Linked DNA regions of Homo sapiens: all the other regions are reported to be linked to region 4. Evidence: microRNA targets listed by miRTarBase, many of them from high-throughput screens and not tested one by one. Region 4 holds a microRNA gene; each other region holds the end of a gene's coding sequence.
The links. Region 4 holds the annotated microRNA hsa-miR-3679-3p (CUUCCCCCCAGUAAUCUUCAUC, at 1,935-1,956, opposite strand). A microRNA usually pairs through its seed, bases 2 to 8, with sites in the 3' UTR of a target mRNA and lowers its output. Matches are read on the target gene's strand: a 7mer-m8 pairs with bases 2 to 8, a 7mer-A1 pairs with bases 2 to 7 and ends in A, and an 8mer does both.

Region 1: the mRNA of YIPF6 is a reported target of hsa-miR-3679-3p. Seed matches in the 3' UTR shown: 7mer-A1 at 1,168-1,174 and 7mer-m8 at 2,516-2,522.
Region 2: miRTarBase lists HDHD2 as a target of hsa-miR-3679-3p. Seed matches in the 3' UTR shown: 8mer at 904-911.
Region 3: miRTarBase lists UBE2K as a target of hsa-miR-3679-3p. Seed matches in the 3' UTR shown: 7mer-A1 at 4,015-4,021, 7mer-A1 at 3,541-3,547, 7mer-A1 at 1,800-1,806, 8mer at 313-320 and 7mer-A1 at 68-74.
Region 5: the mRNA of UBAP2L is a reported target of hsa-miR-3679-3p. The part of its 3' UTR that is shown has no 7-base or 8-base seed match.
Region 6: miRTarBase lists ZNF394 as a target of hsa-miR-3679-3p. The part of its 3' UTR that is shown has no 7-base or 8-base seed match.

Annotation. Positions count from the first base shown.
Region 1 is chrX:68,531,411-68,536,476 of GRCh38, forward strand. YIPF6 (Yip1 domain family member 6) reads left to right here. Exons shown (of 7, transcript NM_173834.4): 7 at 471-5,066. The coding sequence ends at 589. Among named protein-coding and RNA genes, the nearest start is that of YIPF6, 35 kb to the left of the region's middle.
Region 2 is chr18:47,104,239-47,109,302 of GRCh38, reverse strand. It overlaps HDHD2 (haloacid dehalogenase like hydrolase domain containing 2), which reads left to right. Exons shown (of 7, transcript NM_032124.5): 7 at 518-1,893. The coding sequence ends at 621. Among named protein-coding and RNA genes, the nearest start is that of HDHD2, 44 kb to the left of the region's middle.
Region 3 is chr4:39,777,581-39,782,654 of GRCh38, reverse strand. It overlaps UBE2K (ubiquitin conjugating enzyme E2 K), which reads right to left. Exons shown (of 7, transcript NM_005339.5): 6 at 4,845-4,973; 7 at 1-4,295. The coding sequence ends at 4,221. Among named protein-coding and RNA genes, the nearest start is that of UBE2K, 82 kb to the right of the region's middle.
Region 4 is chr2:134,124,050-134,129,123 of GRCh38, reverse strand. MIR3679 (microRNA 3679) reads right to left here and starts at 1,999; the gene lies at 1,932-1,999. It also overlaps a transcript of MGAT5 not described here.
Region 5 is chr1:154,269,420-154,274,493 of GRCh38, forward strand. It overlaps UBAP2L (ubiquitin associated protein 2 like), which reads left to right. Exons shown (of 27, transcript NM_014847.4): 27 at 781-1,428. The coding sequence ends at 876. It overlaps HAX1 (HCLS1 associated protein X-1), which reads left to right and starts at 3,210. Exons shown (of 7, transcript NM_006118.4): 1 at 3,210-3,357; 2 at 3,917-4,179; 3 at 4,355-4,542. The coding sequence starts at 3,305. RefSeq lists a silencer at 2,826-2,966 and an enhancer at 3,104-3,273.
Region 6 is chr7:99,488,835-99,493,908 of GRCh38, forward strand. It overlaps ZNF394 (zinc finger protein 394), which reads right to left. Exons shown (of 3, transcript NM_032164.4): 3 at 4,406-5,074. The coding sequence ends at 4,695. Among named protein-coding and RNA genes, the nearest start is that of ZNF394, 8.9 kb to the right of the region's middle.

The DNA.
Region 1 (5,066 bases), not on the chromosome of region 4:
CACTGTGCCTGGTCAGAAGGGTGATTCTTGATGAGTAAAACGATGATTAGGTTTTTCTTAGATGGACAAGGGAGGGATGGCGTTTAAAAGAGCTGACAATTTCAGAAGCACAGTTAGCTCAAAAAGCAGAGCAGCACGAGGCCGTTTACCATAGGAACAAATAACCTTACACATCTTTGTAAGCCTTTTCAGTACAGTTCAATAACTTTTCCAGAAAAGGGTAAAAAACTCCTTTTAGAAAGATTTCCATCCAAAATGGTTTAGTACTTGAAATAAGTCCTCGGCCTCGGCTCTCTGAAAAACTATGTTGCAGAATGCCTTTATCTCTGAGGATCACCAGTATAACTAAACTTTTAGTGTAATTCTGTGTTCTAGATGATGCCAAGCTCATGAATGTTTAGTAAATGTTAATAGTTGTGACAATATTACTGTATTAAACATTCCTTTTTGTTTTGTCTTGTTTTGTTTAGCCTCCACAGCTTTCCTTGCTGATAGCCAGCCTCCAAACCGCAGAGCCCTAGCTGTTTATCCTGTTTTCCTGTTTTACTTTGTCATCAGTTGGATGATTCTCACCTTTACTCCTCAGTAAATCAGGAATGGGAAATTAAAAACCAGTGAATTGAAAGCACATCTGAAAGATGCAATTCACCATGGAGCTTTGTCTCTGGCCCTTATTTGTCTAATTTTGGAGGTATTTGATAACTGAGTAGGTGAGGAGATTAAAAGGGAGCCATATAGCACTGTCACCCCTTATTTGAGGAACTGATGTTTGAAAGGCTGTTCTTTTCTCTCTTAATGTCATTTCTTTAAAAATACATGTGCATACTACACACAGTATATAATGCCTCCTTAAGGCATGATGGAGTCACCGTGGTCCATTTGGGTGACAACCAGTGACTTGGGAAGCACATAGATACATCTTACAAGTTGAATAGAGTTGATAACTATTTTCAGTTTTGAGAATACCAGTTCAGGTGCAGCTCTTAAACACATTGCCTTATGACTATTAGAATATGCCTCTCTTTTCATAAATAAAAATACATGGTCTATATCCATTTTCTTTTATTTCTCTCTCTTAAGCTTAAAAAGGCAATGAGAGAGGTTAGGAGTGGGTTCATACACGGAGAATGAGAAAACATGCATTAACCAATATTCAGATTTTGATCAGGGGAAATTCTACACTTGTTGCAAAAAAAAAAAAAAAAAAAGCAAAGGGCCTCTAAAGAATCAGCCTCTTTGGTCCCTTTGTGCTGTCACCTTTTTGCCATGTTTAACAGCATCTTGGTTGGCACTCTAGTCTTAATCTTGCTCCTTAACTTTGAATATGCAGTCTAAAATGTCAGTAGTCAACATGTAATTTTCCTTTGAAATTCTGAATATTCCAGTGCTGGAACTTATCCAAAAAGAAGACCTCAGAAACTTAGATTGGTAGATCTCTAGTGCATATTATCATGTGGGCACCTTCTCTTAGGGTGGAATGAGGCAGTCTGGATGCAGCATAGTTAAAAGGAGCTGTTTAATATTCTCTGTAGTCTGGCCTCTTAACTAGAAAGTAAAGCTAAATCAGAAGCCTGTATTTAACCATGTGAACAGGGAGGGATTTAGTGTTCTGATGGCTGATTAATAGAACAGCTAGATACTTAGAGCATGACGTGGGATGGGATGAGTTTACAGCTGCTGCCTTTTCATGGTGAGCTTAGCAGTTTTCTCATTAGATGTGTTTTTTTGGGTTGGGGAATAGCAATTTATTTTATTGATTTTAGACTTTATCAAGCTAATTAGCTCCCCTTTAGATAAGTACATGTTGCACATGTGCACCTACTTGTAATCTCAGATATTTATGCACACAAGTGTGAAGGTTTTTCAGGGAGCAGAGCATCTGGGACAGGCTGATTCTGAGCTAAACAGGGCTCCTTTAAGGCAATATGAACTGTTGCCTTCTATAAATTGCACATTGAGGAACTCTAATAGACAAAGATTAGGTGTCAGGCAGAAAACACTCATTGTAAATATACTATTAGTTGATAAACATAGGACTTTCTTATTCCCCAGTTTTTCTTTATCATATAATTTAAATATTTATTCATTTTGTATTTAAAGACTACCTACACATAGATATATGATTCCAAAGTCATACTTTCTCCATCCCCACATTAGCCAAGTGAATACAGGGCCAAATGGGTTCTTGGAATGATAATAACAAAGCATTACAAAGTGGGTCCCCTTGGTTCCAGCCTTGTCCAGAGTTTTTGGTTATATATTTCTATTTATTACAATTTACCTTTTAAATTGTAAAATAAACCTTTGTGTGGACAGAGCCAATGTTTCAATCTTGAATGAGTAAAGAAAATACTTTGGAACTGATCCTCATTTTGAAATTGGTTCTAAATTATTATCCATTTCCAATGTCTGAAATTCTCTTACTTCCTGCTAAAACTCTCTTTCTGCCAAAGTTGTTTCGTAATCTGTCTCAATGACTATAATGTAAAATTAAAGAAGTAACCATGCTTCTCAAGGGGGAATTAAAAGTGTTTATTGAATTTTACTCAGGCTAATTGTTTGGTCAGAAATTCCTAAGGCCACAGCTTTGGGGGGTTCGTGTAGATGTACATGGTGGGTGGGTTATAAATATTGGGACTTAAGGCAGCTTGTTCTATGTATTTATCTTTGCTCTTGGGTGACTTAGGGAATGATTTTATTTGATTTAACCTTCTTTCTGTTTGCCCCGAGAATACTCGCCAGTGGCGCTTGCAGTTGTAGCATTTACCCCAAGATAACTTTGCCTACGAAATATTTCGCTTTTATTATTTTCACATCATTCTAGTATATGGACTTTGGAAACAAAAGACATTGTTCTATTTATAGCATTCTTTTTTTTTTTTAGTAGCGGTATTTCCATTTACAAAATATAGTAACTCTTGATTACTGAAAATGTCAAATCCTAGAAAACGTAGCATGCCTATACATGATGTTAACATCATTCTCGAACAGTTGTTGGCCGAAGATTCATTTGATGAATCCAATTTTTTTGAAATAGACAATTCTGATGTTCTCTTTAGAAATAACTCAGTTTTTATCTTTTTTCACATTGAAAATCAGTTAGATTTGCTTAAGCCTCAAAGAGAATGTTTATGTAAATTAGCGCTGGCAATTTTTTTTTTTCTAAACAGGAAAAGGGTTAAATGAAGGTTGATAAAATGGATGTTCAATTGTCTTTCTGAAAGTGAGTGGCTTGAAGGGATGAATAAATATTTTCTTAATATATTCAAAAAAGTGCATTGCTTTCTGTGATGGAAGTTAAGACCTAAATGTCTGGAAGTTGTAACCCTCAACACAGCTTTTCCTGATTTGCTGCAAAGGCACATAGCTGATTATAGAAGTGAAGACGGCAAGGACGGGGACTCCAACAAAGGAAACCCTGTTGCAGGATTTGGGAACTTTCATGCTTCAGATGAAATTCAGGCATGTGAGCATCACTGCAGAATGTGGTGCATCATTGCCATCATGAGTAATCACTTGCTGCTCCTACTTCTGAGACCAAGACTCTTTTGTCATATTCTTTAGCAATAGGACGGGTAAAGACTGGATTTAATTGCTGTTCAGAGTATAAAAACTCAATTGATTCCAACATATCTGAATGTGCAGTAAAGTCTTAAAAGTCAACCGTTAATCATTAAGTCTTTTGCCTCTAAAGTCTTTTGCCTCTGAAGAGGTTTATTACATGAGTTGATTTTCATATTTTCATTTTGGTGGGGTTTTCCTGTTGTTGGGCAAGGTGGGGTCACAGGACATGGGACTAGTAAGCATTTTACTGTTTACTATATTTGTCTTTTTATAAACAGTATCTCCCAAAATGTGATTAGAAGGCTACCAAGCCTGTATTTGGACATTTAATTGTGTGCTTTATATAATGTAACTACTAACAGTATTTGGACTGCCTGTTCATTCCTGGAGACAAAAATGAAAATCTGTCAGTTCAAGTTCTTGGGTAACATCAAGTCATTAGAATTTATCTAAAGCTTATCATGATTTGATAAGACATCCATTGCATGCAGCTGTTTTAGCTCAGTGCAAAACACTGAAATTGTGATTCTTAGACTGTTTCTGAGACATTTGGATGGAAATAAATGTATAAATGTTAATTCATGTATATAAATTAGAAACACTTTTCTAGATTCTGTAGGCTTTTGTTAAAAATAGAGAATTTCTTGGGGTTTACTTAGGCCACAGAATGGCCAAATAATAATAATGACAATGATATTACTAATAATAATAGCTAACCTTTATTTGGCACTTACTGTGTGCCAGGCACTATTCTATTTTTTTAAGAATTTTTAAAATAACAGCTTTATTGAAATACACTTTACCATAAACTTCACCTTTTTATTTTTTATTTTTATGAGACAGGGACTCACCCAGGCTGGAGTGCAGTGGAGCAGTCATGGCACACTGTAGCCTCGACCTCCCTGGGCTCAAGCAATCCTCCCACTTCAGTGTCCCGAGTAGTTGGGACTACAGGCATGCGTCACTACACCTAATTGGCTAATTTTTGTAGTTTTTGTAGAGATAGGGTTTCGCCATGTTGCCTAGGCTGGTCTTGAATTCCTGGGCTCAAGCGATCCACCTGCTTTGGCCTCCCAAAACAGTGGGATTGCAGGCGTGAGCCACCATGCCTGGCTGAAATTCACCTTTTAAGATGTACAATTCAGTGGTTTTTAGTATATTCACACACAAAATTGCACAACTATCACTAACATCTAATTTTAGATCATTTTGTAACTTCACCAAGAAACCCCAGGTCTGTCAGCAGTCAGTTCCATTCCCCCTTCATCCCAGCCTCTGGCAACCACTAATCTGCTTTCTGTCACTATTGATTTGGCCAGACACTATTCTTCTGTGCTTCTCATGCATCTCCTGTAATACCAGTGCTACAATTCTCATTTTATGTGGAAAATTGAGGCACTGAGAGGTTAAGTAAATTGCCCACGGTCACACAGTAATTTGATTTACAACAGTAATAACACATTAGATGAGAACACAGTAGGACACAATTTTGAATTCCATTT
Region 2 (5,064 bases), not on the chromosome of region 4:
CCCCTGGCCTGCGAGCATCCATCACTCTTTTCCTCCCCAACCCAGGGCGTTCTCATCTGCTGGGCTCCCGGGCTGCCTGGATCCCTGCGTGGCAGCAGCACATCCTGTTCCCAGTTGCCTTTGGGAGCGGATGAGTCCTCTGCCCTCTGGGGTCTGGGCTTCCATTTTAAAGCATTAATTTAATCACCAATCTATCTTTAGAGCTGAGGGTAGGGGAAAGAAAATGATTTCATCAGCTGTGAACATGTGAAGGGAATCTTAGCTGTCAGACGATCCAGTACCTGTGGCTGTCCATTGTGAATGACCAGAGGGCCTGGGGAAAGGCTGAATGTGACATTTCTTTGAATTGCCTCATTTACATCCTGAAGCCTCAATAAAAGGTGATTTGGGAGATGTGCAGCCCCTGATTCTGTCTTAACTGTAAGGGTGGTGCTGTGATGACCCAGGTGCTCATGGGGTATGATTAATTTAGCATTCTGGTGGCAGCCTGTGTTTACTGGCTTTACTTTCATTTCAGGGAAATATCGAGCATCAGATGAAGAAAAAATTAATCCACCTCCTTACTTAACTTGTGAGAGTTTCCCTCATGCTGTGGACCACATTCTGCAGCACCTATTGTGAAGCAGTGTGTGCATCTGAAGCAACTTGAAATGCAGCTTCTTATTGTCTGGAATGAATCCCTTACCAACTCAGTGCCAGCATCGGTAGACACCAGTCAGTGCTGATCGCTTTTTAACCCTCTTTTGTTGTGCATTAATTAGAAAGAAAGGTATTGAATTGCGGCTAGCCAGTAAGCCTTGCTAATCTCTTTTATTTTGTAACTGAAGATGAGACCCAAAGAAAGGGAAAGCTGAGATTTTGTGCCATTCCTTTTAAAATATTCATCAGGTTAGGTGGGGCTGTGGGGGAAAAGCTACTACAGGGAAGAGTGTTCTCTGCTGTCTCTTCACTGGAAAACAGGGAGGGGGGATTTCAGACTGTGAAGAAAGTTGAATGGTGGTTTTTAAATTATAAAGTAATGTATTAAAAGGTGCATTAGGCTGTAGTTCTAATATTGAGTTCAACTGTGAAATCCATCAGATGTGCCAAATGGAGAAGACAGAAAGCAACAAAGTGAATTGTTCTTTAGCCCAAGTGGTACAGTGAATTTGCTTTAACAGATGTTGAAAACTAAATTTTCTACTGTATTCCCAGCACGGGTGACTTCTTTTTCTCTTCATTAGCCAGAGATGACTAATTTAAATTTAGAACCAGATTTTAATTTAAATTAATATTTCCATTAATAACCTATTCATTGCAGATACCTATTATACTGTGTAACAGTTGTTTTGGAAATTTTATGTAAAATTAAAACTATCAGTATTTTACAGATGTTTTAATTAGACATTGTTATTAACAGGAACAGTGCAGAAACTAGAATCAAGCCTTATAATATCTTATAGACCATGCATTTTTGAAGTTAGTGTCCACTAGGGTCCTATTAACTGTACATTTGCAAGATTTCATTATTTTTGCCTCTGACACTATGGGAAAAATTTTTTAGAAGCTATTGGGACAGATTCAAGCTTTTATGCACTTGGTTACTACAGCTGTAAAATGAAATCTCGTCTTGTAGCATGGATTATTCTTCTCATGTTAAACCCACCAAAATAAAGGGGACTAAATAGGTAATGATTTTCCTAGTGCATTTGCATACTGTGATAATCCTGGGCCTTGCAATAGTTCTACAGGGCTCTTGGGCATTGAATTATTAGGATGTAATTGTACATCATTGTAGTGTTCACCTTATTGAAGCTCACTCTGATGTTAATGAGCTTCGGGTTTTGATGCTTGTTTAGAGATCAGCAGTCTTGGATGGGAGGGAACAAAGCTAAATAAATGTTAGTTTGGTGAGCACTGTGTTTTTGTTTTTGCAAATGCCTCATCTTAGTACTTCTATATCCCAGAGTGCAAAAGACAGATGTGATATGACTACCACCCCAAATCAGAAGGATGAGCGGAGTGGCTAAGAGTATACTCTGGATCCTGGTAACACAAAATTAGCTCTCTGGCCTTGGGCAAGTCACCTCACCTCTCATGCCTTCTTTCCTTATCTATAAAATGGGGATAATGATAGTGCCCACCACATACGGTTGGTGTGAGCATTACGTGCATGAACTATATATTAAGTACTTAGAATATCATTGGGCAAATGATGAGTGCTGTGCGTTTGTGATGATGATGATGATGAAGCAGGACTCTCCACATTTAACAGTCTGAAAAAGGTTGGTAGAATTTATCTTTACATTTATCTCAGTGGAGAAAGTCTTCCTAAGGATTAAAAAAAAGGATATTCTTTACTACATTTAGACTTCCTCAGAGCAAAGCTGCACAGAGAGAGAGCTCAGCCTGTGGGTAGAGAGCTCTGCGTGGTGCCTGGTGGGTGGGCTGCCTTCAATTTTGCCCTGTTGCTTGGGCACCTGGGTCAGTGATGCCTTGGCCCAAGCATTATCAAGTGTTTGCTAGTTGCTGTGCACTGAGTGCCCTGATTATGGTGGGAAATAAGCATATTAAGAAAAAGATTTTGCCTCAAGGATCCTTTTCAGTTGAAGAGCTAAGGAAAAGAATACACACAGAGGCGTTCCTGTCCTCTGATGTCGTCCCTGACTTCAGGATGGGGCAAGGTGTCCCCTCCTTCATGTCCGTGTGGCACTTGAAGAGTGTACTTATGTCTTCACATGCTCTTCTCCCCACTAGACAGGGCTGCATCTCATTTTTTTAAATTTTAATTTTGCTACCCAGTTAAATTTGAGTTTCATCATTCTTTCCTATATCTGCTGCAACACAGGTAAGCACTCAAATGGTTACTGAACCAATAAAAACTAAATATCTTAGGAATGTAATGCTAGAAAGCATAGCTTTGAGTGGGCAGGAGAAAATGTTCATTTTAGACTTGTTGTCTTAAAGTTGCCCATAGGGGAGGCCCCATTAAATAAACACTTGGAAGTAATGGATCAGATGCTCTGGAGACAGGTTAGAGCTAAAGCCAAGAAGGGAACATCATTGATGGGTCAGGAAGTGAAGAGGGTAAAAGTCTCCTGAGCATGATGGACTCAGCCGGGAGAAATGGCTTCTCTCCATTCTTCCATTCCACTTAATCCCTGTGAGCCCTGAAAATCTTAGTTTGAGATCTTTAACAAGCATTATATAGGACTTGCTAACTGACCGGCCCACAGTAAGGTTCATGAGAATAACTAAAAATCTTACTTATAAACATTCCAATCCATGTTAGTCTCAGCTGGTTAGTCTGCCTTGGGCCTCATGGAGGAAGTTTAGTAACTGAAGTTTCTTAGGCTTCATTTTCTGGCTGTCCCATTTAAAGGGCTATCTGGTATTAATTTCAAGGATGGTGTTTGCATCAGTTTTATTATAATCCTGTCCTGGGCCAGAAAAGGGACCATGTGACACCTTGGGACTGGAAAGGTTATTAGAAAACATCCATTGTCGGGAGTTGAGTGTCCCACATCTGCTGTGAGCCAGGAGTGTGGAGCAGGGCAGAGCTCCAGTCCAGGGGAAACAGATTCAACCCCCTCCACCCACACCTCCAGAGTCAGCCACAGGTTGCAGTAGCTCTGCCTCCCGTACGTTCTGCATCTGTGAGAGCTAATCGTAATGGCTAGGAAAGGAAAAGGAGGATAACCTACCTCATTCTAAGTGACAATTCCATCAAACTTTACCTTTAGCCGTGATGTCAGAAATTCCCATGGAATGATAATATATGTCACTTCACACATAATCCCACATTTTAGAACTTACAGTAGTGTGTTGGACAGAGAAGTTAAAAACACCTACACTGATTGTGTTCAATTGGTTTTTGGATCAATGTGTGTTCATGTAGGATAAAACTGAAGTCCTTGGGCACCTATAATAGAGAATTTTTTTAAATGACACTAACCTATTGCATTAAAACACTGCCTCAAGCAGTAGAATCCCTTTGTGATGTTAGCAGTTGTTTGCAGAGGGCTGTGTTTGCCTTATCATGTTTATTTGACATAAGTCACAAAAGCTTTTTTCAGCCTAAATGCACAAGGCTTTTGGTGACTTCCGTATTATACCAGCCATCAAGGCCTCCTGTCCCAAATCATGTTGCTATCTTTAAGGAGCAGTAACGAGGGTGCCAAAGTACCAGAAATCATTTGTTTCAAACAGTTTGAATGTTTTTTCCAGTGCTTTTCTTTATGTCATACACAGCTCAACTCCTGTTTGTTTCACTAGCTGATCTTCCTGAAAAAATCAGATATTTAATGTTCTCTGTGAGTAAAGCATAAGGGAGATGGAGAGAATACAGCTGTGGCTCCTAAGATGTGTGTCTTTTAGTTGGGAAATTAACACATATAAAAATTTATAACAATACCAAGGACTCTGACATGTTCAGAATGGTTGTGTAAGTCCTCTAAGATCATGAGCAGTGAGCAAAATGCATGAGAGTAGTAGTCACAGACAGTGCTCAGATAGCCTTTGGCCTACGCCATTTTAAATAATGTTTCATTCAATGGCAGTGAAAAAAAGTACTCCAGGCATGGAGCTTACATTTGGAGGGAGCAAACAAATGATGAAACACGTGCATTTATACACAGCTACCGAATACAGTGAGAGATTGATGAATGATGAAGAAGAAGGCCAACAGGAATGCGGTTACTTTAGGTAAGTATGGTCTGCCAAGGAAGGCTTTTAAAGGTGAGTGGGAGCAGGCTGTGGAAATTCTACAGGCATATAGTTAACCTTGATTGCCAACATCTGAACACCAGGAGATTCTAATGCAAATCAACCACTGGGTTTTCTAGGAAGATGGGAAGAACTGGCTTATGTTAGATCCAAATTTCCATGTCCAATTGGAGCAGAGTCATTACTGTGTCAGAGAGTCCCTGGCCCTCTCTAGCTCACCACCGTCTCCACCTCTGCTTTGCCTAACATCCATCTTACTCCTAATTTGCCACTACATTCCATGTTTCTGTAGGTCTTTGGGCTGTGACCTCTGCTTTGGAAGAAAATACATTAAACTTTCCTCCAACAGCTATCAGGCCA
Region 3 (5,074 bases), not on the chromosome of region 4:
ACAAATACCCCAACCTTCCACCCCACAGCCCACCCTGCTTCAATGGTATTTCTGGTAACCCACCCATTTTCCCCTTACAGGAAGTTAACGGCTCAGAATAGACCCTCCTACAGAATTTATCATCACTAACAGATTGTTTAGAATAGAGATCTAGAGAAGCTAACAAGCAAGGTTCCCTATAATGGCAGTAGACTTCCAGCAGACACCACAACAAAGCACCATCAATTGCTGAAAGCTAAAAAATAGATATTATTTTCAATAATATTTCATTTTCTATTGGAAAAGTTTTTTAAATTACATTAAATAAGTCTCTTTCCCCCCAAAGAAATAGTCTAGCTTTTATTATGATGCCTGTAAAAAGTAGGTAACAGCAAGCAGACAAGGATCGTTAACAGCACAGTGTAATGATTTCTATCCACTCACACCTATAATCAAACTGACAAACTGTGCCACACCTGATTATATATAGCAGCATGGTTGAAATAACCAAGCAAAAGGTGACACATTCAAGACTTCCATTTAGGTGATTGCAAGTTCATGAGGGTGTATCAGTCCAATGAAGCAGTAACAGAACAAATGGGACAAGGGAGATACTAACACTCCCCTACCCCTATGCCACAAGATCTTTGATCTATATTGCAGCAGTGCAAATAGAACGTGTGACATAATATGTAGACACTGAAGAAAAGTCACACTTGGGAATAAAGGCTATTTTATCAGTAAATACTTCAAGTTGCCTTCTTCCCAGTGACAGCAACTGGCTGATGGTAAGCATTTACTTTAAACTGATACTAAAAAGAATGGAAACGTAATTTTTAAATCAATGGTTTGTACCCTGGAATTGAAATTCCTTGAACTAGAAAAAGTGATTAATACAACATTTTGTAGAAGTCCATGAAATAAAGTTAACTGTAAACAGACGGCTTCCTTTTTCCTATCTAAACATTGTTTCCCTCTACATACTAGAAGGTATACCTGGCTCCAGCTGTTCCCTACCCCAATCCATCTTAAATCTTTAAAACAATAACAACAAAAATTCATAATTTCCTATTTTGCTACATAGGATTGTAAAACATTACCATACACCTACTGCACAGTTTTAAAAGCTCAAATCAGGCATACACTTATACCCAAGATCTGCTTTTCACATTGGTAAACTTATTAAGCAGCCTCAACAGTAATACAGTATGCTGCATTCTGTAGTGCATAAATAAGCAAAATCCGTTTAAACTGCCAATTCTTTCTTACAGATACTTAAAAAGAATTATTTTGCATAGTTTTATGTGCCAACAATCATAAATGTGTATTACTTCTAAAAAATGAAAAAAAAAATCAAGTCTTCCATTTCATAGATTATTCTCTTCAAAAGCAAAATACTTAGACTCCATTTATATATCCTTGAATGTGTTACGTGTTTAAGTAAATCATAGTCGTGATTCCAAACATTTCGGGGTGCCAACTCAGAGCACCTAATTCAGTACCTAGTTCCTCAAATATTTATATACCACTGAATACTTATTTGGGTCCACTAACTGCCATTCATTCATTCATTCATTCATCAGTACTGAAATACTATACAGCTAATTATTTCTTCTTTTAAAAGAGGCACATACTCAGGAAACAGGCCTGATTATAACAAAAGCCTACTGGAGCATCAGTGACTTCTAACAAATCGGCCTGCCCTAAATGGGATTTCACTGGATTTTTTTTTTAACATAATTTTTGAGGCTTTTAAAACTGACAAACGGAGCCAACTCAAAAATATTAAGAATTACAAAAATAATTTCCACCAGGGTACTTTTCCCCTAGGCCTGACCTTTTAGTGTCTTTTTGTCCAAACATATTTAAGACCAGAGGAAAAAAGCAATTGCTTTAGTTTCTATGTTTGGGTAACTAAATCTACCCACAGACAAGAGAATAACAAAAACCAAACAGTACAGTGGGAAATATACCAGAAAGGAAAAAAAAGATCATCACATTAAATGTAAATGAGGTAAATTTTTATAATAAAGAATCTTTTATGAAGAATGTCTCAAACCAAATATTGTACTTTCCAATTTCTTGGGCACTGGGGATGCTGAAGTGTAGTTAGATGAGTATATAACCCTATAGGGCTCATGTGCATAAAAATCAAAGCAGGATATAGCTGCCTCCAAGAGCATGTATGTATGTATATATGTAAAATGCTTGACCTTTAGAAACCTCTGAGCTCTCTCACCTTTGTTTAACCACAGGACAATTAAATATACCCTGATAATACAGGCAAAAAATAAACTGGGTAGATGTGTCTGATATTTTTAAACCCAAATTCTACTAATACTACCAAGTTGCCCTCCACTTAAAAAAAGTAGTTCTAACCAACACTGGAGAAAAACCATCCACATTTTCACACAATCCCACCTTACTTCAAAATATAAAGTACGAGGTTTCAGGTATTTAAAATAAATAAAGAAAAATCTTGTTTCCTTTGGCATCTTTAGAAAATAAACTACAGCAATAAAAAGAGGTGATTGTATAAAGACATGCGTAAGCAAACATATGGGGAAAAAACAGCAACTTGTGTTTAGTATGTAATAATATCAGCTATAAGAGTTTACTGTTAATTAGGAAAGCCTTACAAATTTTTGGAAGAACCTTCACATCTTTAACATTACAATATATTTAATAATGGTTCTTTTATTGCTTCTAGTATCAAGATTATTGAGAAGTCAAATGAAGTTATGCTGACGTTATGATTCAAAAATTATCTTCCAAACATTTAACGATTATAATTTAAGATAAATAACACTTAAAGAAAGCAAACCTTTTATAATATGACTTTCAATATACAGCCTTACTTTAATTCAGTCTGATTCCATTACATTTTTGTTATTTTGTATTGGTCCTAAAAATTTAAAAAGAATTGTATTTCTATATATAGAACTGCCTGCATAAATCCACTTCAACCTTCATAAAATGGTTACATTAGTGTGTGATCTTGCAAAACTAATAATTTTCAAACTTTTGAACTTAGAATGAAATGTAAATTTAATACAAATAGTCTGACTATGTACAAGAGAAGGTAAAGTTTTCAATTCTCGTATTATCAGAAACATCATAAAGAAAGCTAGATTTATAACACACTTCTATTCCTATGTGCATCTGAAGTATGTACAATAAAACACCAACACAGCTTTCATGTGTCAATAGGGGAAGTGCAAGCAAGAATGACTTGAAGTATCCAATAAAGCAATCTCTATAGACCCCAAAATCAGGCTAAAAACTGCAAACAGCTGACTGCATCCTTGCCAGTTCTCAAAGAAAAATTTCATCACTAAAAAATAGGTGTCAAATTCACTGAAAAACTAAGTTGGGTTCTTTCATTAAACCTGGGAATAATGTAACATCAAGTATTTACTATTTTTGCAAGAGAAATAAAATTGGCAGTTCCATTTTTACATTACTTAAGAAAAATTTAAGAGTGTTTGAAGAACTGGGACAAGACATTCCAAACCTACGACCTAAAAATGAAGCAAGGGATACATACTGTCCTTCAGCACATTTCCCCACCTGATACAGAGAAATTTACCATTAGAATATTAGCTGTGTGTGGCAAGGCGGGGGTGGGGGGGGTGAAGGGGGAATCAGACACTGTCCCAGTCTGTTGACAAGGACAAAAAGGCTCTGAATAGGTCACCATCTTCAATTCTGAATAAATTTCATATTTAAGAATTCTCAAATGCTTAAAATGGTGGTCTTTTCAGCTACCCATCCTAAGAAGTCAAGTACAAGCATGCAAGTAAATTCACAGGCACAGAGGATCCATGTTAAAAACAGTTAAGGTAGCTGTGATGCAACACCAACAATTTGAATGGCCCTGACACACTCAAAATATTATCTTAATTATTCAACAAAATCCTGAAGCAAACTCTTGCTAGTCTTGGTACACTGCTAAACACTAAAGTAGCATGTTTCTTCCATGGTTTTAGCTTAGCTCAGGGAATTTTTACACTATTAAGAAAAAAAATTAAAGTATTTCCCCTTTTTAAATTTACACAGACGTTTAATTAGCTTTATTTACAGAGCAGGGATTTTTTTTTTTCAGTCTCCAATGGTGCCTAGATAACATCATTAGGCAAGAATGCCAGTTTAAAAGAAATCTATGCAGAATCCTAAAAATAACAGATGTTGGTGCTCCTCAAGAAGAGGCAAGCTTGACTATATCAGCAGCTCTCTATGCCTCAGTTACTCAGAAGCAATTCTGTTGCAGTCTCTACATCCCATGATTTTGAAGACAAGGCCACTATTACTGCATTCTGTAGAGAAGAAAAGGGGACAGGAAATTAAATCTCAAGGAAACATTTAAACAATACTGAATCATTCACTCTTTATACTGGGAATTAACACCTTGTTTCTTTTCTGTAAGTTGATTTACATTTGCAGTGCATGGAAAGCTTCTAAAATCAATGACAGTAATTAGTAAAAATAAAAAAATCACTGACTTTGAAAACAGAAAATATGTTTACCAAAACTAGATTTTCTCTTATTTTCCTTTTTTTTTTTTTTTTTTTTTTTTTTGAGACAGGGTCTTGCTCTATCACCAAGGCTGGAGTGCAGTGGCATGACTATCGCTCACTGCAGCCTCGACCTCCTGGGCCCAAGGGATTCTCTCACCTCAGCCTTCAGAGTAGCTGGAATTACAGGCACTCACTACCATGTCCAGCTAATTTTTGTAGAGATGGGTTTCGCCATGTTGCCCAGGCTGCGAATTTCTCTTATTTTCTAAACCACTTTTGTCAGCCAAGAATTTGCAATAATTTAAAATCAATCAATATATCAAAATCAACATGCCCTTATGTACTTACCCTATCAAAGCCCATAGCACATAGGTTTTCTATTTTTTTGGTGTATTCTGGACTAGAAACTGGTGCTCCAGCATACACATGTGCCCAAAGTCGAGCTGTCTGTTTGAACATTTCGGGATTTTGTTTGTACTATATGGGGGGAAAAATTGATTGACATGACATTACAGTTATAATATTTGATATATTTCAGCTCTTAATCGCCTACAATCCTACTTTTCCAAATAAAACAA
Region 4 (5,074 bases):
CGGCCAGTGAGACCCATAAGGGACCTCTGACCTACAGAATTCAAAGAGAATAAATGTGTGTGGCTTTAGCTGCTAAGTTTGTGGCTGTTACAGCAGCAATAGAAGTAATCTTGTAGTATTTCTATTAGAGACTGACAGTGAGGAAATAGAACAGTCACACTTGAAACCACTGAACTAGGAGGAAGAAACTCGGAAACTTAAAGAGTATTAACCAGACATGGCATCAAAAAATGGAAAGCTGTCCAGACACGGTGGCTCACAACTGTGAGCACTAAGAGAGACTAAGGCATTTTGAGAGACTAAGGCAGTAGGATCGCTTGAGGCCAGGACTTCGAGACCAGCTTGAGCAACATAGTAAGACTCGTGTCTCTCCAAAAACTAAAATTTTTTTTAAAAATTTAGCCAGGCGTGGTGACACATGCCTGTAGCCCTAGCTACTCAAGAAGCTGAGGCAAGAGAATCACTTCAGCCCAGGAGTTGGAGGTTACAGTGAGCTATGATTGCACCACTGCACTCTAGCCTGGGTGACAGAGAAAGACCCTGTCTCTAAAAAAAAAAGAACTAATAAAACTTGAAAGTTGTATTTGATTCTGCTTACAGAAATAGAGAAAAGGCACTATCATAGAATAAGCAACTCATTATCATGAAAAACACTTTACAGGAAGAACAATAAAATCTTAATACACAGTATTACCAAGGATCCCCTACCTATACTACTTAACAAGCTGGTACTAGGGGAAAGGCCATAGTAACAAAATCCTTTCACAGAAACTTTCTGCAGACTTCCTTTAACTGATGGCTACTCCAAACCTGCAGCTCTCTGATCACTCCCTCTTTCTTCTTTCTCTCTCTCTCTTTCTTTTCTTTTTCTTTTCTTTCATTCTCTCCTTCTCTTTCTCTCTTTTTTTTTTTTCTTTGTAGAGGCAGGAGTCTTGCTTTGTTGCTCAGGCTGGTCTCAAACTCCTGGGCTCAAGCAATCCTTCCATCTCAGCCTCTGAGAGTGCTGGGATTACAGGCATGAGCCACTGCACCCAGCCTCCACTTTTTCTTAAGATAACATTGACAATAAGGTAATAAGCCCTAGTGGTGTGTGGACACACACACTCACATTCAGAGTCCCAATTTGTTGACCTGCATGAGACCATAAACTGTGCTAAGAGGAAAAAAAAAATGTCCACAGACTGATTTTAAAAGATGAACTCTGAAAGAGCATAATGACCAAACGGAACCTCAAAATCAGGAACACACCTAGGAATCTTTTTAAGGATAGACTAAAGAAACTAAAGTAGCTGAGTGTGCAGAACCCAGCCACGCAGGCACACTAGTAGAACCCTCCAAGTGTGGGAGGGGCTAAGTGATGCACCACTTTTCAGATGAGAAATCAGAATCACTAACCACAGAATCGGCCCACATGAAGACAGCCAGCTAAGTGCAGAAGCCTCACCTGCCACGGTCGGAGTTCACTCACGATGCCATGCTGCCTGGACAGCTCATCTCGTGACTCCAGCACGCCAGGCCTGGAGCTTCCAGCCTGTACCCATGAGAGCTCCATGACACTCCTTTCTTTATTGGACCTACATGTTTCTTTTTTTGTTTTGGGGGGGTTGGAACAAGCCTGGGGGGGGGGGAAACCTTTTCCTTGAAGGAGCTCACTGGACATAAGAATTGCAAAGGAGGAATGGTGAACCTCTAAAAGTTGATCGTATTTACCCAGGAGAATTACATTTGTGTGTAATGTACAGTGAAGACTGCCCAATAACAATGTCATCTTTAAACCCACCAAGCATAATAGCTAAAAATCAAATAAAGGAAGAATGTTAACATTCTTAGTCACAGAGACTAGAACTTTTTTACAGAGGGAAGGCAATCAAGATGAACAGAGGGGCTTGAAGCTGTGTTTGCAAAGGTCTTACACAGGACTGGGGACACCGCATGATGAAGATTACTGGGGGGAAGGGAATAGAGGGAAACTCCCCTTCCCTGCCATATCCTCACCACGTGGGGCCTCTAACTAGGTGCTCTAAAAAATTACAGGAAAGGGGACGAAGGAAGTATACCAAACAAATACTAAGAAAGGTGCCAAAGGAAAACAGAGAAATCACACAGAGCATGAGGCAGAGATGGTACTTTCTCTTTGCATCCAAGAAAGAATCGGTCATTCAGAAAACTCCTCACCGGCATGGATGCTTGTAAATAACAAACTGGAGGTGAAAATAAGATGGTTTAAAAAAAAAAAAAGCAGCTGCAAGAAGACTGATACCAAACTTCCTTATGTTGAAAGGTAGTAGTTACACACTGAATGTGTAGACAGAATTTGGCCCTGCTTGTGGCAGTGTGTAAACACCTAGCCACGTCCCCAGGGCACTGTGCGAGGAACCACAGAAGGCTATGAGCCTGGTCATCTTCTCTACTCTTTGAATCTCAATTTCCCAAGGGAAAAAATAGCTTCACTAAAGGAAAGCAGGTTATTTCAGGGCTGAAAGTAAGGACCAAGGTTTTTTATTTCTAAACATACAAAGATAAACATCCCCAAAGAGAGTAACAATAAAGGGCTGATTCTTCTTAGTTAAGCTTTTCGGCTGCCTGCTAAAGAGAGTCTACTGGCCAGGGCAAAAACAACCTGAATGTGTTCTCAACCTTCTTTTTAATTTAATAAGGGAATTTCATTTAATTTATGTTACAAGCCTTTTGCCACATGTATAGAATTAAGCAACATTAGGAACTGAACGGATCTTTGGAGCGCATTCAATCCCCTCTTACTTCTCAACCTAACAGCTGAGGCCCAAAGTGGTCACATGGGCTGAATTAGTATGTTCATCTACATTTCCCTTTATCACTGAACTTAACTCTTCTGGGTGTGCATTGACCAGGCTTAGACTTTAAACTCCTTGGGTAGCCAGTGACTATTTATTTGGCAGAAGCATTCCGAATCAGGAACAGGTGAGGGCAGGAAAGGAAACGGGTGCTCACTGCTATGTCCAATGGGAAGATTCCACAAAGTATGGCGATCTTGGGTTCAGAAAAGCATTTTGTGTGGCCTCTGCTCTCTTTCTAGGACTCCGCAGACACTGCGGGAATGTCTTCACAGGCACCGATTATCAGAAATGTTAAGGAATGGTCCTGATACCTCTTCCAGGTCACTCCTCACCTACCCCATGCTCCTAAAGAAAGGAAATCAATGCTGAGAGGAGCCAGGAGCCCTAAAACACAGAGAATTAATAAGAGTGAAATGTAAAATCCAGCCCAGACTGGATTCTTATCATGTCAAACTTAAAAGGTGACATGAGAAAGGGAACCCCTCATTCCAAAGGATATACGTCACTTAGATTCTCCCAGCTGGGGATGGTAGGAGGGAACTGGGCCACACCAACCTGCTCCCTACCACATTCCAAGGTGAAGCTGGGTGTGAGCACACAGTGGGCTCCAGTGAGGAACAGATGCCCAGTGGCCATCAATTCTCTTCCTGTATCATTGCTATAAACAAAGCAGGCAGGCACCCGTTATCAACTGTTACCAATTGTTCCTGTGGGACCACAGAGGAGATGTGAGGTCCAGCTTTGCCACTGCTGCCTGCTGGTGAGACTTTGAGAAAGTCCCTCCACCTCTCTGCACCTCGGTGACCTCAGCTAGAAAGAGGAGGGCCCTCCCTGCAGTGCCCCTGGGTATCTATGAAGCCCTCTCGGCTTAGGTTGGAAAGAAGGTGCTGGCTAGTACAGGGCATACTCACCAGCCTTAACCACTACTCACAGCCCAACCCACACTGGCTCTGGATCTAGACCACCTGGCTTCAAATCCTTGCTCTGCCACTGAGTAGCTGTTTGTAACCTTAGCTAGATTTCCTGACCTCATGATGTTATGGTCTCTCCATGTATAAACTTGGAATAACAACAGAATCTACCTCATTGTTGAGTGAAATACCTGTAGTACAAAAGAAGCATTTGCAATAATGCCAATCGGAGAAGGTGGATTTTTTTCATCGCCATCATTCCTATTTTCTTGTCTACCCTTTCTTGATGTTTCTCCACCAAGACATATAATAAAATCTCTACGATGATCACCAACATAACACACTCCCATGAGGGGACCCAGACATGGAAAAGACCCAAAACTAATAGAGTGGAAGACTTTTCTGTGTAGGATATTTATAATAATAATTTTTAAAAAACATTTTACCAGCATGACAGGACTTATAAGAAGTCTGTGCACCGAACTACAACTTTAAAGCGTGAAGTTCAAACAGGAGTGGGTGGGTGGCACATGTTCCCTCAAGGGCCAGCCACAAAAATCACAAAGGGATGCAAATAAGTGAGGCTGTTATTATTCTAGGGATAACCTTGAAGTGCTGACATTTTAAAAAGTAAACCTATTGCAAGCACCAGTAGTTAACTCTTACTAGTAACAGAAGTACTTGGGTGTAACTCACTCCTGAGTTCACTTTGTCAGGAAATAGAGTGGAGAAATATTCCTTAGCCATTGCAGGGAGCCACCTGAGCAAGGGTCAAGGTCCAGCAGGCATTAATGCCAGCCTGGCAGTGAAGGTGACAAAGAGAGAGTGCTAGTTTACAAGACAAACTGCTCCCACCAAACCAAGCCACAGTAGCTTATAACCCTTGCCTGTCCTGATTTTTAAGACTGGGCAGAGTCCCGAGAGGAAAGCCCTGTTCCCATTCCAGAAGATTGTATGTTTAGACAAGAGAACTGTGGGATTTTGAACAAATAAAGTGATTCCTCCAACCCCTCCCATGCACACACATAGCCCTGCAGATATGACAAAGTCAGGGAAGGATGCACTTAATTGTGGCAATGAAAAAAATAAATACAACAGTCCAAATGGGCAAACACACAGCTCGAGTCCAAACTCCTCTAGCTGAGAACGTGGTTACAGTGCTAAGGCTCCTGGGACCCACCTTGGCAGCTTTCCAAGAGCTATTAGTTTGTATTAACACACAGTAAGAGAAGGTCTGCTAAATTAAAAGTGAGATAATTTAGGAGGACATCTTTATACCCAGCACCAGCCCAGTGCACAGCACATGGCAGATGCTGGAAAAATGCTCATCAGCAGCCAGCATCAGTC
Region 5 (5,074 bases), not on the chromosome of region 4:
AATTGAATGATCATATGCTTGAACCCACTCCTTTTCAGTCCCCATTTCACCTTCACAGCCTCAGGGAACTTGAAAAGACTGCGCGGTCACAAATCGGGATACACAAACACAAACACCTTGCTGAGCTCTCTGGCCTCCCCTTCCTCTCTCCTCCTCCCCTCCCCAACACCCTCTTTATCTTTGTACCCTTCCCCAGCTGTGGAAAACATTCGGTTACCAGAATGGAAAAGATTCTTGGGGCAGCATCTGGAGCCTGAGGCCTCAGACTGCCTCTCATACCTGCCTGAAATGGGCTCACAGATGTGATGTGTGGTAGGGGTGGGGATCTGTGGGGCGATGCAAGTGGCCTCTTGAGAGCTCCATTATAGGTGGCTGGAGCTAGAATAAGGGCTTCCTTCCTCAAAGACAGCTTTCCAAATTGAGGCATTAATGGGGATCAATGGAAATGAAATTGCCTTGTGATCACCCATCTCCAAGAGCAGGGGAGAGAGGGGGTAGTGTGAGAATGTAGAATTGAAAATGAGTAGAACTCACTCACTACCTTGTCTCTAAAGGTATCTTGCCCTCTTCATCTTTTCCCTATTTAAAAGTCAAAAATGCCTTCCTGCTTGTAAGAAAGGGGCTTTAGCAGCTATGCAGACCAAATTTTCTATGGTTCTAATAGTAGTGAGGGGAATGGGAGAGCAAGACAGTTTGCACATCTCCACCTGAAGATGTTACAAATTTGTACCACTAACTAGACACCTTTTTCCTCCTCATGATCCTCCCATTCCCCTGCAGACGGGCAGCGGGCAACGTAGCCAGACCAGCTCCATCCCGCAGAAGCCCCAGACCAACAAGTCTGCCTACAACAGCTACAGCTGGGGGGCCAACTGAGGCCCTGACCCTCTTCTCCCGGTCCCATCTTCTGAGAGGGCTTCTCAGCCTGGAAACTATGGAAACAGCATCAAAGAGAAAGGAATGTGGGGGGTTTCCGCTGCCCCCCACCCCCAGCGGCCCACCCCATGCCTCAGCTTCATGTCTGTCCCATTCCTATACCATCCCCACCCTGTTGTATGTATTATAGGATTTGTATTTTCTCCTTTTTTTTCCCCCTTCCATTCCTTCTCCCCTCTTGCATTCAAGATTATGAAACTTTGCTATGGGCCCTGCACTTCCTTTGCTTCCTCCTGTTCACCCTGGTGGTGTACGGATGAGGCGGGGAGGTGGGACCCCCAAACATATATCAGCCCAACAGCCCTAAGTCTCCTTCTTTATTATTAGGAAAACAACAACAACAACAAACAAAAAAATGGCGTCATGAATATGAACAGCATTGTCAGATGAATTAGTTGAAGTGGTTTTTTTTTTGTTTTTTTTTTTTTTTTGTACTGTGTCCTCAAATTTAATGGATTAATGTGTCTTGTATATATAAAAAGAAAACCTCTACCTTCAGCCTCTGCCTATTCTTGCTCCGTCTAGGACATCCTCAATTTCGTCGATGACCAGCTTGGTGAATAAGTATTACTGTACCAACTGGGCCTCCTCTAGCAGGCCCCTGAAGGCAGTGGAATAAAATGAAATCTTCGCCCTTTAAGAACTCCTGACCTTAATGTGGTAGTAGTATCTTGTCCTTGAGGGGATTTCCTTCCCCTCACCCCTAAGACTTTCACAACCTGGTGACTGGAAAGAACCACCACAAATCTTCATTTCCTCCAGAAACTGCTACATCTACAGCCGATTTCAGGCAGTAAAGGGAGAGGGATAGAGGAGATTGGGTGGAAAATGGAGAGGATCAAGAAGGAGCTGAGACCATTTCAAAGAAAAAAAATGCTTTATAGAGTTTTAAGTATGACTTAGATGGGTCCAGGCAAATAAACTAAAAAGAAGTGAAGGCAACATGTATCGTCTGGCAGAACTAAATCTTGGAGTGGGGTGAGGGATGAAAGACTACATATTGGGTACAGTGTACACTGCTCGGGTGATGGGTGCGCTAAAGTCGCAGAAATCACTAAAGAACTCATCCATGTAACCAAACACCACCTGTACCCCAAAAACGAAATAAAAAAACAAAACCTTGGGGCCCATTCCCCCTAGGAATGGACTACTGTAGTAGTGGCTTCTTGGATGCTTCTCTGTGACATAGCTATACCCAATTCTTTGAAAAAGAATCTAGAGCAAGGTCTGGCTTGGGGATGGGGTACAGGGAGAGACAGGTCTCGGAGAGGTTTTGAACAAAACACTTTTAAAAAGGAATGAGGACAGGCGCTTTGGGAGGCTGGGTTGGGCGGATCACCTTAGGTCAGGAGTTCGAGACCAGCCTGGTCAACATGGTGAAACCCCGTTTCTACAAAAAATACAAAAGTAGCCGGGCGTGGAGGCGCATGACTGTAATCCCAGCTACTCGGGAGGCTGAGACAGGAGAGAACCTGGGAGGCGAAGGTTGCAGTGAGCCGACATGGTGCCACTGCACTCCAGCCTGGGAAACATGAGAGAAAACTCTGTCTCAAAAAAAAAAAAAAAAAAAAAAAAAAAAAGATACCAAAGGGATATTTCTTTATAACCCCCAATTTGTTCCTTCTCAGGACTCAACTAGCTTCCCTTCCCTTGCTTTCTTAAAAATCCTTTGTCTTGCTGGTTGCAGAGCCTGCTTAGAAAAAAGAATTCTATATAGTTATAACAAACTCCCTAGTAGCTAGAGAGGTGGAGGAAGTTAAGTCCATGCGTCTCTTATGTCTTGATCTCTTCTCTGGGAAATTCAATACTAGAAGGAGCTTGGAAAAGCATTTTGTTCATCCCTCTAACAGCAGACATCGCCCAGGTCAGTCAAAAAGAACGCCCGAGTAAGGAGCGAGGTGGCTTCTGCTGTGAGGCTGGCCAGCCCCGCGGGTGGGGTGGTTGAGGGACGCCCTCAAGCCGGTCCATTTGTGCGGCTGGGCTGCCCTCTGGCGGCTTTATCCGGGTGCCATCCAGAGTCAAACCCTCGAAATCGCTTTTCGTACTGAGTTGGTCTGCAGAAAGAAGAACAGATTTAGGAGGAAGGCGGTCATAGGAAACTGAAAGTGCGTCACGCCCACTCCCGTCACGGAAACTGGTCTCTGAAAGGTGGGGTAAAGATAAAGCCTTTCAAATTTGAGGAAGACCTTCGGTCCCGCCTCCATTTCACGTCCGGCTTACCGTCGTTTACGACAGTGTCAGGATCGCGGGCTTGCTTTCCGGTAGCGTGGGCTGACGCCTCGCTCAATTTCTCACAGGGCTGCGCAGGTTTCCCCCGTCTGCGAATGGACCACTGGAGGGGTTCAAAGGTTCGCGTCCCAGTACGGGAATGAGCCTCTTTGATCTCTTCCGGGGCTTTTTCGGCTTTCCTGGACCTCGGAGGTGAGAGTAGGTCCGGCTCGGACAAGGGTGGGGGTCGTCTGAGGGGAGCTTGACCCCTACGTCTTATTTTTGGAAAAACATCCTCTGTCCCACTCCTTCAACTCCTGCAGAGAGGACAGAAGTCGCAACATTGAACACTCACCCCGCCACAGTAACCAAGGCGGTCATTAAGAGGAGAAACAGCAAACTAAGCCTTTCTCCAACCTGGGGTGATGCAACAGGGACCCGGGCGGGGAAGACCGTGAGGGTCTGGGGAATAAGACAGTGAGCAAGTGAGCAGGACCTTGGGAGAGAGAGGAGGGACTGGGGCACACTGAAGAAAAACTGGGGGAAGGTGTATGAAGGGAGCTGCGAGCTGAGGTCTGACTTTGATTAAAAAAAAAAAAAAAAAAAAAGAACTGTCAGCCATTGTATTAATGTTTTGATGTGGCAGCCAGTCCTCCGACCCTCTCCCTAGCTTCCCAGACCCCTTGCTCTTGTCCCACTTTGCCACCCATGAGTTGATTTAATGGCTTAAATAGTGCTGAAATATTGGTGGCCAATCTGCCTCCACTCTCAGCCACAGAGATCCCTTTTTTGGAGGGATGACTCGAGATGAAGATGATGATGAGGAAGAAGAAGAAGAAGGGGGCTCATGGGGCCGTGGGAACCCAAGGTTCCATAGTCCTCAGCACCCCCCTGAGGAATTTGGCTTCGGCTTCAGCTTCAGCCCAGGAGGAGGGATACGTTTCCACGATAACTTCGGCTTTGATGACCTAGTACGAGATTTCAATAGCATCTTCAGCGATATGGGGGCCTGGACCTTGCCTTCCCATCCTCCTGGTGTGTGGCTTTCCCTAAGGGGCAACCTGTGGTTTCTGGTGGGTTGGTGGGTGAAATAAAGAGCCTGCAGGGAGTAGCTGGGGGATGGGAAGTGTGAGAAGACTGATGATTTCAGAGAGATTAATAGAGCCCAAGTCCTTTCCCATCCCAGCAAACACCTGCCACCTTTCTGCAGAACTTCCAGGTCCTGAGTCAGAGACACCTGGTGAGAGACTACGGGAGGGACAGACACTTCGGGACTCAATGCTTAAGTATCCAGATAGTCACCAGCCCAGGATCTTTGGGGGGGTCTTGGAGAGTGATGCAAGAAGTGAATCCCCCCAACCAGCACCAGACTGGGGCTCCCAGAGGCCATTTCATAGGGTGAGTATCCCATCTGGTCCTGAAGTGAGAGCTTGTGAGAGACCACTAATAAAGTGCAAAGACTGGCTAGGTGCGGTGGCTCACGCCTGTAATCCCAGCACTTTGGGAGGCCGAGGTGGGCAGATCACCAGAGGTCAGGAGTTGGAGACCAGCCTGGTCAACATGGTGAAACCCCGTGTCTACTAAAAATACAAAAAATTAGCCGGGCATGGTGGCAGGTGCCTGTAATGCCAGCTACTCAGGAGGCTGAGGCAGGAGAATTGGTTGAACCCAGGAGGTGGAGACTCCATCTCAAAAATTGTTTGAGACCCAGCCTTGCTCTGTTGCCCAGGCTGTAGTGCCGTGGCACAATCTCAGCTCACTGCAACCTCCAATTCCCAGGTTCAAGTGATTCTCCTGCCTCAGCCTCCTGAGTAGCTGGGATTACAGTCGCCTGCCAAACGCCCAGCTAATTTTTGTGTTTTTAGTAGAGATGGCGTTTCACCGTGTTGGCCAGGCTGCTTTTGAGCTCCTGACCTCAGGTGATCCACCC
Region 6 (5,074 bases), not on the chromosome of region 4:
GGAGAATCACCTACCTCAACCGGGAGGCAGAGGTTGCAGTGAGCTGAGATTGCGCCACTGCACTCCAGCCTGGGCGACAGACCAAGACTCCATCTCAAAAAAAAAAAAAAAAAAAAGTTGCCCATAATCTAAAATGAGTATGTTAGATTCTGATAAGAGTTGTAAGTCAGCCCGGCGCAGTGGCTCACGCCTGTAATCCCAGCACTTTGGGAGGCTGAGGCGAGTGGATCACGAGGTCAGGAGTTTGAGACCAGCCTGGCCAATATGGTGAAACCCCATCTCTACTAAAAAATACAAAAATTAGCCGAGCATGGTGGTGCGCGCCTGTAGTCCCAGCTACCCAGGAGGCTGAGGCAGGAGAATCGCTTGAACCTGGGAGGTAGAGGTTGCAGTGAGCTGAGATCATGCCACTGCACTCCAGCCTCGGTGACAGAGTAAGACTCCATCTCAAAAAAGAAAAAAAAAAAAAAAGAGTTGTAAGTCAATATTTGTAATAGGTGCCGTGGGCCCTGCCGAAGTCCCTCTGGCCTTACACCTTCTGTGGGCTTCATCTGACTGTGTCTGCACCTTGTGGCCTGTGGGGTAATAACACATTCTGGGAGCAGCTGTCAACCAATCATCGATGGGAATTTGATAAACACCAAATTCTCCATCTCCCCATGTGTGGAAAACTCTGAAGCATGTGTTTTAGTTTCCAGAGGTTCCCCATGAATTGCACACAGGCACTCACCCAAGGTAGATACCTCATTGGGTGACTTCCCTTCTGTCTCTTCCACCTTCCCTAATAGTGTTGCAACCTCTCCCCAACAAATAAACTACTTGTATTCAAAAAGTGTCAATTATGTTCTCTGAGAAGCCATATCCCTTCTGTTTCCACAATTATTCTAAGCACATTCTGACATTCAGTTTAAATAGGTTGAGCTGAGTGTATTCTCCCTAGAGCTCAACAATATAAGAGATCCATTTAAATTATTTGGATATCCTAAACATCATCCTATGTCTGTATTAAAAATTGCTCTAATTTGCCGGGCGTGGTGGTGGGCACCTATAATTCCAGCTACTCAGGAGGCTGAGACAGGAGAATTGCTTGAACCCGGGAGGTGGAGGTTGCAGGGAGCCAAGATTGCACCACTGCACTCCAGCCTGGGCGACAGAGTGAGACCCCGTGTCAAAAAAAACAAACAAATATTGCTCTCAGGCCAGGTGCACTGCGTCATGCCTGTAATCCCCAACACTTTGGGATGCTGAGGCAGGTGGATCACTTCAACCCAGGAGTTTGAGACCAGCCTGGCCAACATGGCAAAACCTCATCTTTTTTTTTTTTTTTTTTTTTTTTGAGATGGCGAGTCTCGCTCTGTTTTCCAGGCTGGAGTGCAGCGGTGAGATCTCAGCTCACTGCAACCTCCGCCTCCTGGGTTCAAGCGATTCTCCTGCATCAGCCTCCTGAGTAGCTGGGACTACAGGTGCCTGTCAGCATGCCCAGCTAATTTTTGTATTTTCAGTAGAGATGGGGTTTCGTTCGCCATGTTGGCCAGGCTGGTCTTGAATGCCTGACCTCGTGATCTGCCAGCCTTGGCCTCCCAGTGCTGGGCTTACAGGCGTGAACCACTGTGCCCAGCCTCTCTCATACTTTTAAAGTACAAAAATTAGCTGGGTGTGGTGGTTGTATGCCTGTAGTCCCAGCTGCTTGGGAGGCTGAGGTGGAAGGATCGCTTAAGCCCAGGAAGTTGAGGCTGCAAGTGAGCCAAGATCACACCACTGCACTCCAGACTGGGCGACAAAGTGAGACCTTTTTTTTTTTTTTTTTAAAAAAAAAGATAGTTTGTATTTACGATTCTCTCCAATGACCAGTTCAGACATTCAGGCACTTGTCACTCAGATTAATCCTCATGTTTAAAGAAGGTACAAACAGGAGAGAACTGTTTCTAATTCACTGAGCCACAGGGAACTGCCAAATCTAGAGAGACTCAGCCATAGAAAATGAACAGTCACATCCAAAGCGCAGCCATCCTGAGATGGCTTCAAACTTAGAGGGAGGTGTAGGTGCTGTCCAGGCCAGACACTCTTCAGTTTCCAAACAGTTCCTAGAGGAAGAGAAGCCACTATCACCCAGAAGCCACCTACACCCAGACTAGACCCGGGGCTCTGCCCTGTGTTTGTCAGGGGCCACTAGTGCCCTGACTGCTGTTTCCTGATGATATTCCTTCAAGCAGAGGCCTCTATTACACGTGCCCCAGCTCACCTACATCAGGGAGAGAGTGGTCTCCTGACCGTGATGGTGGGAGCCCCTAGTGGAGCTGAGCAGACACTCTCTTCCCTTCATTTTCACAGGACCTGGAAAGGACAACCACACTTGCTTTACTGGAGATGATTCTTATGTTCTATTTTATTCACTTCTGCAAGAAATACTCAAATTTTGTATAATAAGCCTTGTGATATCATGATAAATATGTATCTGGTCTTCATCCTCAATGACTAGCAGAGAGCTCCCCAAACCTTGGAGAATTCCTGAGGGATAAGGGTGCTAAGAGCATCTTTTCTTATCATATTTGGTCTTTGACACTTGTTCCTGACACAGAGCTGTTAAACCCATTGGAATTTCCTTAGTGATGCATGTCTTTGTTCTAATAAGGCAACTCTTGGATTTCCGATGGGTTCAGCTTGGGGGCTAACTGGAAAGACCAAGGCATGATTAGAAACTTGGAAGCTGAGGCGGGCGGACCACGAGGTCAGGAGATAGACACCATCTTGGCCAACATGGTGAAACCCTGTCTCTACTACACTACAAAAAATCAGCCGGGTGTGGTGGCGAGTGCCTGTGGTCTCAGCTACTCGGGAGGCTGAAGCAGGGGAATTGCTTGAACCTGGGAGGCGGAGGTTGCAGTGAGCCGATATCATGCCACTGCACTCCAGCCTGGGCGACAGAGAATCTGTCTCAAAAAAAAAAAAAAAAAAAAAAGCCAGGCACAGTGGCTCCAGCCTGTAATCCCAGCACTTTGGGAGGCCAAGGCGGGCGGATCATGAGGTCAGGAGATCCAGACCATCCTGGCTAACACAGTGAAACCCCATCTCTACTAAAAATACAAAAAATTAGCAAGGCATGGTGGGGGTGCATGTAGTCCCAGCTACTCAGGAGGCTGAGGCAGAAGAATGGCATGAACCCGGGAGGTGGAGTTTGTAGTGAGCCGAGATTGCGCCACTGCACTCCAGCCTGGGCGACAGAGCGAGACTCCGTCTCAAGAAAAAAAAAAAAAAAAAAAGAAATCAGCAAGTCATAAAACTGAACTCCTAGGCTCCTAGAATGGGAAAGAAAGAGGGACTATGCAAAATTAGGTTTTCTGGAAAGTGAAAAATAGAGTGCTTCTTTTGAGTACTGAGCTTTACCAGATCTTTTGGGGATTATGAAGTAGTTGAAACCCTCTCTACAATCTAAGGCCAAAGGCAAATTTTAAATGACTAAAATACATTCTTAGGCAAGTATTAATAATTGTAGTGAGCAAGATTTGGTTCAAAAGTGAATAAAAAGGCCGGGCATGGTGGCTCGTGTGTAATCCCAGCACTTTGGGAGGCTGAGGTGGGCGGACTGCCTGAGCTTAGGAGTTCACCACCAGCCTAGGCAACACAGTGAAACCCCATCTCTACTAAAATACAAAAAATTAGCTGGGCATGGCATGGTGCACCTGTAGTCCCAAGTACTTGGAAGGCTGAGGCAGGAGAATTGCTTGAATCCAGGAGGTGGAGGTTGCAGTGAGCCAAGATCATGCCACTACACTCCAGCCTGGGTGACAGAGCGAGACTCCATCTCAAAAAAAAAAAAAAAAAAAAAGTAAATAAAGGTAGGCTGGGTGTGGTGGCTTGTGTCTGTAATTCCAGCACTTTGGGAAGCTGAGGCAGGAGGATTCCTTGAGCCCAGGAGGTTGAGACCAGCCTGGGCAACATAGCAAGACCCTATCTCTTAAAAAAAAAAAAAAGCTGGGTGTGGTGGTGTGTGCCTGTGGTCCCAGCTACTCAGGAGGTTAAGGCAAGAGGATCACTTGAGCCCAGGAGGTTGAGGCCACAGTGAACCACGATCACACCACTGGGCTCCCGCTGGAGGGCTACGACGAGACCCAGTCTCAAAAATAATACATAAAGGTAGAGCGCAGATAACAAGGACAGAACCCCGTTACATGTCAGCCTGGCTCTTATCATCAGAAGTCTCTTACCTGGCATCAGCTCACATTTCAGAAGGCCCCCTACTTCCTCATTCCTCACTCACTGAAACTATCAGTCTGTAATGAGGCTCAGGACAGATTGAACCTATCTTGTAGGAGATACTCAAGGAAGATCCATAATTGACTGATATACTCCAAATGGCAAGGAATGTGGTTCTGGACAAGAAAAGAAACAGGCCAAGTCACATAGAAACATATCAAAATGACAGCACTTTATTTCTTTTTTGAGATGGAGTCTCGCTCTGTTGCCCAGGCTGGAGTGCAGTGGCATGATCTCAGCTCACTGCAACTTCCGCCTCCTGGGTTCAAGTGATTCTCCTACCTCAGCCTCCCGAATAGCTGGGCTTACAGGCATGCACCACCATGCCCGGCTCATTTTTGTATTTTTAGTAGAGACAGGATTTTACCATGTTGGCCAGGCTGGTTTCAAACTCCTGATCTCAAATGATCTGCCTGCCTTGGCCTCCCAAAGTGCTGGGATTATAGGCGTGAGCCACCACGCCCAGCCGACAGCACTTTATTTTGATGAATTCTTTGGTGTCGGATAAGGTGTGTACTTTGTCTAAATCTTTCCCCACATTCAAGACATTTGTAAGGCTTTTCCCCAGTGTGAATTCTCTGGTGTTTAATGAGGGTTGCACTCTGATTGAAGCGTTTCCCACAGACGGAACATCCATAGGGCTTCTCCCCAGTGTGGATTCTGTGGTGTTTAAAGAGGTCAGAGCGCTGTTTGAAGCTCTTCTCGCATTCTTCACACTTATAGGGTCTTTCCCCTTTATGTAGTCTCTGATGTCTAAAAAGGTTGGAAATATGACAGGTTTCCCCGCATTCCTCACATTTAAAATGTTTGTCTCTACTGT